3 separate regions of the Homo sapiens genome follow, and regions 1 and 2 are each linked to region 3. Evidence: fine-mapped expression QTL. A gene starts in region 3. Each other region holds a variant in brackets. All regions are shown on one strand. Distances are between the middles of the regions. Region 1 overlaps RAB21 (RAB21, member RAS oncogene family). Region 2 overlaps LOC107984530 (a long non-coding RNA gene). Region 3 holds the start of RAB21 (RAB21, member RAS oncogene family).

The links. PIP is the estimated chance that this variant, and not a neighbour inherited with it, causes the effect.
Region 1: its variant is fine-mapped to the expression of RAB21 in tibial artery (GTEx, PIP above 0.99). The same link has a PIP of 0.9 or more in aorta, fibroblasts and sigmoid colon.
Region 2: its variant is fine-mapped to the expression of RAB21 in whole blood (TOPMed, PIP above 0.99).

What each region holds. Positions count from the first base shown.
Region 1 is chr12:71,784,503-71,787,267 of GRCh38, reverse strand. It overlaps RAB21 (RAB21, member RAS oncogene family), which reads right to left. Exons shown (of 7, transcript NM_014999.4): 7 at 1-1,737. The coding sequence ends at 1,595. Among named protein-coding and RNA genes, the nearest start is that of RAB21, 31 kb to the right of the region's middle. The variant G/A (reference allele first, on the strand shown) is at 1,602.
Region 2 is chr12:71,713,963-71,716,727 of GRCh38, reverse strand. All of the region lies in intron 1 of LOC107984530 (a long non-coding RNA gene), which reads right to left. Among named protein-coding and RNA genes, the nearest start is that of TMEM19, 29 kb to the right of the region's middle. The variant C/T (reference allele first, on the strand shown) is at 1,149.
Region 3 is chr12:71,753,568-71,756,332 of GRCh38, reverse strand. It overlaps RAB21 (RAB21, member RAS oncogene family), which reads right to left and starts at 1,470. Exons shown (of 7, transcript NM_014999.4): 1 at 1,045-1,470. The coding sequence starts at 1,203. RefSeq lists enhancers at 579-768, 1,409-1,698 and a silencer at 1,149-1,428.

The DNA of each region.
Region 1 (2,765 bases), 31 kb before region 3:
AGAAAAAAAAATCTAATGAGGGACTAATTTATAAAGTATACACAAATATAATTCTTTAATAAATCTTTCCAGTGTTCACTATATCTGCATTACATGTAATGTTTCCATCCACAGAAACTCAGGATAGTTCTTGTAAAATGAAACAGAACATTCTGTGTTCATCTCTGGCAAGCAATGAACAAATAGAACTTGCTCACAAAGGATCTAAAAGTGCTGCCTCAGGAACATAAACTACGTGCTATATGAATGAGTCTTGGTTAACTGGCTACTATCTGGGATCTCTTCCTCTGCTCATACCACTGAACCCATCTCTTATAAAGCCTATGAGAAAATGAAAGCTATTGCAGAAGTGAAATTCAACATGAGCCACCCAAATTCTTCTAAGGTAACCATTCTAAAGCAAAATCAGCAGAAGTCATCTCTTCTATAATAACAAACAAAAAACCCAAAAGGCAAATGCTACTGCTCAATCATCAGATGAACTCACAGAGGCAAAAATATGTGACAACAGCAATAATTCAAGTAAAGTATGTATGAAAATTTAAACACGCCATGTTCAAGTTAAGACAGAAGTGAAGGGGAGCTATGATCTTTATATTAGTCAAAAAAGCTAGGCATAATCACCAAATGTTAATTCACTTTACAGTCATCAATGAGACTATTGTATATATTTTTGCACCTTGCGCTTGTAAAAGCAGATAAAATATTTAATATGTAATTTACAATGTATTTTACCAGCTCAGCATACAGGATGTATACAGATTATATCAAAGTAGTAGACAGTTACGGGCCTGTGCAAACCCTGCAAAAATAGTACTTCAGATATCTGCTAATTAAAAACAAAAACAGTTTGCTGTTTAGAAGTGATACAATTTCAACTACCACAAAATACAAAGGGCTGCAAAAATGTAACCATTCCAACAACATATATAAGTTATTAAATAAAGATTTGATTTGAAAGAATATAAATGAAGACTTTAAGTAGGTCTTTTCTACATGCATATTATTCCTCATTAAAGAAAAAATATGTAAAAAGGCCATTGGTAATTGCTTTGTTAACATTTGTAGGCCGGGCACGGTGGCTCACGCCTGTAATCCCAGCACTTTGGGAGGCCGAGGCGGGCGGATCACAAGGTCAGGAGATCGAGACCATCCTGGCTAACCTGGTGAAACCCCGTCTCTACTAAAAATACAAAAAATTAGCCGGGCGTCGTGGTGGGCGCCTATAGTCCCAGCTACTCGGGAGGCTGAGGCAGGAGAATGGCGTGAACCTGGGAGGTGGAGCTTGCAGTGAGCCGAGATCAAGCCAGTGCACTCCAGCCTGGGTGACAGAGCGAGACTCCGTCTCAAAAAAAAACAAAAAAAAACAAAAAAAAAACAAAAAAAAACATTTGTAGAAAATGCCAATTCTCTGGTCACAAACTCCACTAAGTTTAGCACTTAAGGTCTCTGCAGTGTTATAAACGTAATTTAAAATACTGTTAATTCTATAATTCCATTGGTAAAATAATGTGACTTGGAATATGGCAGTCTTCATGTTGAGGGCAATGATCCACAGTTTTGTTCTGTCTTTTAATTTCTTAGGCGTGAACAGTTATCCA[G/A]AAGAACAGCACCCTCCACCACTGGTCTGGGCTTGAGGTTCATCATCAATAATCTGTACACCTCGCCTTGCAGTTCCCGGCTGACTAGAGCCATTGCCTTTTGCTCTCTCATCCACTTGTGCTGTTTCTATCATCCCTAAGACAGAGAGAAAGCAAACATTATTAGGACCACAATATTTGTGTTTTCTCTTTCTAAAATTTCAGTATAACACTATGATAGCTATTTCTGACTTTCGACCAACAAAGAAACTAAATATAATGAACATTGGGTCAGCTCACTAAAACAGCTTCACCTGCATGTTTTAAAAAACTAGTGTCAAAAACTAGTATCAAGTAGTAAGCTTATTTATCCAGTGGTATAATGGCCACAGTGATATCAATAAAGAAAAAAATTTTTTTGCTCTGAACAATTGCCTGCGTACAAGTATAATCCTTAAGATTTTCCAAACACACTTAGAAATATGTCAAAGAAGTTCAAATTATTCCAAGTAATATTTAGGGGGCAGGATTTATTCTTCAACTAGAAATGTAATACTTTTAAGTAAATGATTCTTTTTATTTTAGTTTTGAGAGACAGGGTCTCGCTTTGATACCCAGGCTGGATGTGCAGTGGTGTGATCATCACTTACTCACTGCAGCCCCTAACTCCTGGGCTCAGTTGATCCTCCTGCCTCAGTCCCTGAGTAGCTGGAATTACAGGTATGCAACACCATGCCTGGCTGAGTTTTTTTTTTTTGCTAGAGATGGGGGTCTCACTATGTTGCCCAGGCTGGTCTCAAACTCCTGGGCTCAAGTGATCCTATGGCCTTGGCCTCATAAAGCACTGGGCTTATAGGTGTGAGCCACTGTCCCTGACCACAGCGATATTTGAAGAATAATGGAGTTTAAGATGAGGGAACTTCGAAGAACACAGCAGAAAGACTCACACCACCTGATTGCAAGAACTAGTATAAAGCTACACTAATCAAAACAGTGAGACAATGATAGGAGAAATAGATCAGTGGAACCAAAAAAACACAGTCCAGAAATAGACCCCGTAGATATGGTCTCTTGATTTTTGACATGGTTGCCAAGGTTATTCAATGAAGAAAGAATATTTTCAAAAAACAGTAGTATTAATAGAACTGGACATCTATTGTAAAAAAAAAAAATCAACCTTAACCC
Region 2 (2,765 bases), 40 kb after region 3:
TTTATGGATGAGGAACCTGAGACACAGAGAGGTTAAGCAAACAGGTTCACAAAGCTAGAGAGTGGCAGAGCTAGCATTTGAACCTAAGCAGTTGAGCTCCAGAGTCTGTGCTTCATTACTCTGCCACTCAAAGCTGACATGGTGTATTAGTTTTCTGTGGCTGCTGTAACAAATTACCACAAATTTAGTGGCTGAAAACAACAAAAATTTATTATCTTAGTGTTGTAAGTCAGAATTCCTAAAATCAAGCTGTTAGCAGCACTGTGATCCTTTCTGGAAGCTATAAGGAAGAACACATTTCTTGGCCTTTTCCAGCTTCTAGAGCCCACCCATGTTCCTTGGTTCATAATCTCCTGCCTCCGTCTTCAAAACCAGCATCTCTCTGACTCCTCTGTAGTTGCATCACTTTCTTTGACCATAGTTAGGAAGAGTTCTCTTTTGTATTTACCTATTTTATTTGAATTGTGGTAAAAAAACATAAAATTTACAATCTGAACCATTTTTAATTGCACAGTTCAATAGTGTTAAGTATATTCACATTCCTGTGAAACGGATCTCTAGAAATTTTTCACCCCTCAGTCTGAAACTTTGTACCCATTAAACATCTGTTTTCCCCCTTCCCCTTATCTCCTGGTAACCACCATTCTACTTTCCGTTTCTATGAATTTTAGATACCTCATATAAGCAGAATCATATAGCATTTATCTTTTTGTGACTGGCTTATTTCATTAAGCATAATGTACTCAATGAAGCTTCATCCATGTTGTAGAATGTGACACAATTTCCTTCCTTTTTAAGGCTGAATAATATTTCACTGTATGTATATAACACATTTTATTTATTCATTCATCCATGAGGGACATTTGGGTTGCTTCCATCTCTTGAGGGTAGTGAATAGCAATGCCATGAGCATGGGATTGAGACCCTGCTATCTCTTTGGGACCCTGCTTTCAATTCTTTTGGATATACATCCAGAAGTGGAATCACTAGATCATATGGTAGTTCTATTTTTAATTTTTTGGGGAACCTCTAAACTGTTTTCTATAGTGGTCACACTGTTTCACATCCCAACACAGTGCACAGGTTTCATTTCTCCACATACTTGACCACATTTGTTATTTTCCTTTTTTTTTTTTTTTTTGAGTTGT[C/T]ATCCTAATGGGTGTGGGTGACATCTTTGTGTGGTTTTGATTTGCATTTCTCTAAAAATTAGTGATGTTGAGTGCATTTTCATATGCTTATATATTTGTATATCATCTTTGGAGAAACATCTATTCAAGTTCTGTGCCTATATTTTAATTGGATTTTTTAATTTTTCAGTTGTTGAGTTGTAGTTCTTTATATTCTAAATATTAGCTCCTTATCAGAGATATGATTTGTAATTATTTTCCCCATTCTATACGGTGTCTTTCACTCTGATTGTATTCTTTGATGCACGACAATTTTTAAATTTAAGGTAGTCTCATTTGTCTATTTTTGCTTTTCTTGCCTGTGCTTTTGTTGTCATATCCAAAACATCATTGCAAAGTCAAATGTCATGAAGCTTTCTCCTGTGTTTTCTTCTAGGAGTTTTAAAGTTTTAGATCTTATGTTAATGGGCTTTTTTCTTTTTTTTTCAGATGGGGTCTTGCTCTGTCACCCAGGCTGGAGTGCAGCCAGTGGCACGATCTTGGCTCGCTGCAACCTCTGTTCCTGGACTCAAGAGATCCTTCCATCTCAGTCTTCTGAAGAGCTGGGACCACAGGTGCACGCCATCATGTCCAGCTAATTTTTTGTACTTTTTGTAGAGACAGGGTTTTGTAATGTTTCCCAGGCTGGTCTCAACCTCTTGGACTCAAGCGATCCACCCTTCTTGGCCTCCCAAAGTGCTGGGATTACAGGAGTGAGCCACTGCACTCAGCCAAGATCTTATGTTAATGTCTTTAACCCACTTTGAGTTAATTTTTGTATACAGCGTAAGGTAAGGATCCAATTTCATTCTTTTACATGCAGATACCCAGTATTCCAATATCATTTGTTGAAGAAAGTATCCTTTGGCATTGTCTATTATTGGTACCTTTGTTGAACGTCATTTGCCCATATGTAAGATAATTTATTTCTGGGCTCTCTATTCTATTCCCTTGGTCTATTTGTCTGTCTTTATGACAGAACACATCCGTTTGATTACTGTCTCATTGTAATAATTTTTGAAATAAGAAAATGTGAGTCATCCAATTTTGTTACTCTTTTTCAAAATTGTTTTAGCCATTTAGGGTCCCTTGAGATTCCATATGAATTTTAGGATGAATTTTTCTATTTTGCAACAAATGTCATTGGAATTTTTTTCCTTTTTTTGAGACAGGGTCTTGATGTGTTGCCCCGGCTCGAGTGTAGTGGTGGAATCATGGCTCACTGCAGCCTCAACCTCCCAGGCTCAATAGATCCTCCCAGCTTAGTCTCCTGAGTAGCTGGGGCTACAGGAGTATGCCACCATACCCAGCTAATTTTTGTATTTTTTTGTAGAAATGAGTTTCACCATGTCGCCTATGTTGGTCTCAAACTCCTGGGCTCAAGAGATCCGCCCGCTTTGGCCTCCCAAAGAGCTGGGGTTACAGGTATGAGGCACTGTGTCTGGCCCCCACTGGAATTCTGATAGGGATTGTACTGAATCTGCAGATTGCTTTGGGTAGTATGAACATCTTAACAATATTGTCTTCCAATCCATGAACACAAGATGTCTTTTAATTTATTTGTGTCTTCTCTCAATTCTTTCAGCAATGTTCTATAAT
Region 3 (2,765 bases):
TTTTCTGTATATTTATCCTGACAACCCTATGAGCTAGATACTACTATTATGGCCATTTTAACAGAAGAAACAGGCACAGACAGGTTAAGTAACTTACCCAGTATGACACAGCTAGTTAAATGGATGGAGGTGAGACATGAACCTGGACAATCAGGCTCAAAAGTCCACTAGACTTTACTGCCTTTGACCAAATTGGTAAGTCAAATTAGTAGGATAAATTTCTCCTAATAACATCAAAACTGATTTCTCTGGGAGAGGTGGGGTGAGTACAACTCCCTCAAAGGCCTGGCTTCACTCTCAATCAATGATAACATTTTAACACCTTTCCAATGTACCTGTGGAAGAAAGCCGACCTTTTATTTTACAGGTAAAGAAACTGAGTAACAGCAGCGGCTTTTAGTCTGGGGACCAATTGTTGGCCAGTATTCACTTGATGTTTCAGCGTGGGTCAATCGACCTCGCAGAATATGAGTGACCCGCAAGTCAGACCCACGCAGGCTGCAATGAAACTGCGTAACACGCCTAGGCAAGCGGTCATTTCAAAAAACCTCCAGAGATGGCTCTTTTGCCATTCCTGTTACTCAGGACAAAATGGAACTTGCATAAACACTTAGTCATCAGTAAGCGCTGAAGTTACAAATCACCTAATTCGCAAAATCAAATACGCAGCTAAGTTCCTAATTCTGAAAGAAAGAAAAGGAGCTAACATTTGGAGACTGCAACACTGACACCTGGGACCCAGGAACTGCAGTAAATGGGAAAAAACAGCCCACGGACGGAGACCACAACGTGCGCAGCCACCACGGGGAACACTGGGGACTTTTCAGGGCCCTTCCACTTCCCTCCCAACAGCCTGTCCTCGCGTCTACAGGCTGCCCCGACCTGGTGATTCCCCAGGGCGAATTCGGAAAGGTAAACCGAAGGCGGAGATGACAGGCCTGAGATTTGCCAGCCTACATCCAGGGGACCAGGGCGGCAAAGTTTCCCCAGCCCCGGAGGGGTAGGGGCCCTGAGGCGCCCCCTCCCGCTCCCCGAGGTCCGCACCTGCAGAGTGGTGATGTGCTTGTCGTTAAACTTGTTCTCGCAGTAGCGCAGCACCAGCGACGTCTTCCCCACGCAGCCTTCCCCCAGCAGCACCACCTTGAACGAGTAGGCTCGGCCCGCCGCCGCCGCCCCGCCGCCGCCGCCGCCGGCCGCAGCCATCCCGTCGCTTCCCGGCCGCCCGAGCCCGAGTGTCGCGCCGCCCTCCCGACAGCCGCGGCAGCGCCTTCACAGCCACGGCCGGCTCAGCCCCCACCGCCCCGGCCCCGCCGACCCGGGCGCTGTCCCCACGCCCTCCTCGGGCGAGGCCTGGAAGGGCTGAGGGAAAGTCCGAGAATGAAGGGCCCCAGCCCACCACGTCAGGCACCGGAGGAAAAGCGAAGAACGATCCCTCTCTGCCTCCCTCTAATGGCGTCTCCTTCCTCCTACGTCACACCTCGGGTCACGTGAGCGCCGGTGCCGGGGCGGCCCCTGCGACTAGCCCCAGAAGAACGTGCCTGGACGTGGGCGGGGCTTCTGGGGCATCTCCCGGGGTGGAGCTGGATGTGAGTCGAGCGCCTACTGGCAATCTAGGGCAGAGCCCCGCCGCTTGCGAGCCACCTCTGCTTTTCAGTTGGTGGGAGCCAGCGGGAATAAGGAACCAGGAATTTGAGGCGAGCCCAGCTCTGGTGAAATGAAGGGCAGAACTTCATCGTTTTTGCATGTTCACAATGCTAATGATCTGTCACACCAGAGGTCACTGTAAACCATATCTGCCAAGGTGCCCTTGAATCTCTCTCTGTGGGATCCCGAATCATAGCGCTTCCAAGTTCCTCTGACCGCCTGGTCAACTACTCCATCATCTTTCAAGTCTCAGCTTAAACCGCGTCCCTGACCACCCAATCCTTCCCCCATCCTTCCATTCCCCCACCTCACAAAATTAGGTATTTCTTACCACCAGTATACCTCCTTTACTAGGGCTTTACACACTCCATGGATATTATTAATACTTTGCTAAGTGTTTATCGACTCTCATTAGACTATAGGTTTGTTGAGGGCAAGGTCTGTATAAGAGCTGCCCACCTTTGAATTCCTAACCCCAAGTGCTCTTCAGTTTTTCTGACTTTCATGAAGCCTCTGACGTTCCATGGTACTCCACCTTGAGGTGGCTTGTTCGATGATTGCTTGTTTTTTCTCATCTGCATCCCCATTCTTTTTTGTTTGTTTGTATTGTTAGTTTTGAGATGGAGTATCGCTCTGTCGCCCAGACTGGAGTGCAGTGGCGTGATCTCAGCTCACTGCAGTCTCTGCCTCCTGGTTCAAGTGATTCTCCTGCCTCAGCCTCCCGAGAAGCTGGGACCATAGGCGCCCACCACCGCGCCCCGCTACTTTTTGTATTTTTAGTGGAGACAGGGTTTCACCATGTTGGCCAGGCTGGTCTTGAACTCTGACCTCAAGTGATCCACCTGCCTCGGCCTCCCAAAGTGCTGGGATTATAGGTGTGAGCCACCACGCCCGGCCTGCCTCCAAGAAACCATACTCCTCCAAGAAATCATACTAATATTTCTGAAAATTTACTGGAAACCTGGTGTCAGGTAAACATTTTTTTAAAAATCAAACTTCTTTCACACTTCAAACCAGGTTAAAAAAAAAAAAAGAGGCCGGGCGTGGTGGCTCATGCCTGTAATCCCAGCACTTTGGGAGGCCGAGGCGGGCGGATCACAAGGTCAGGAGATCGAGACCAT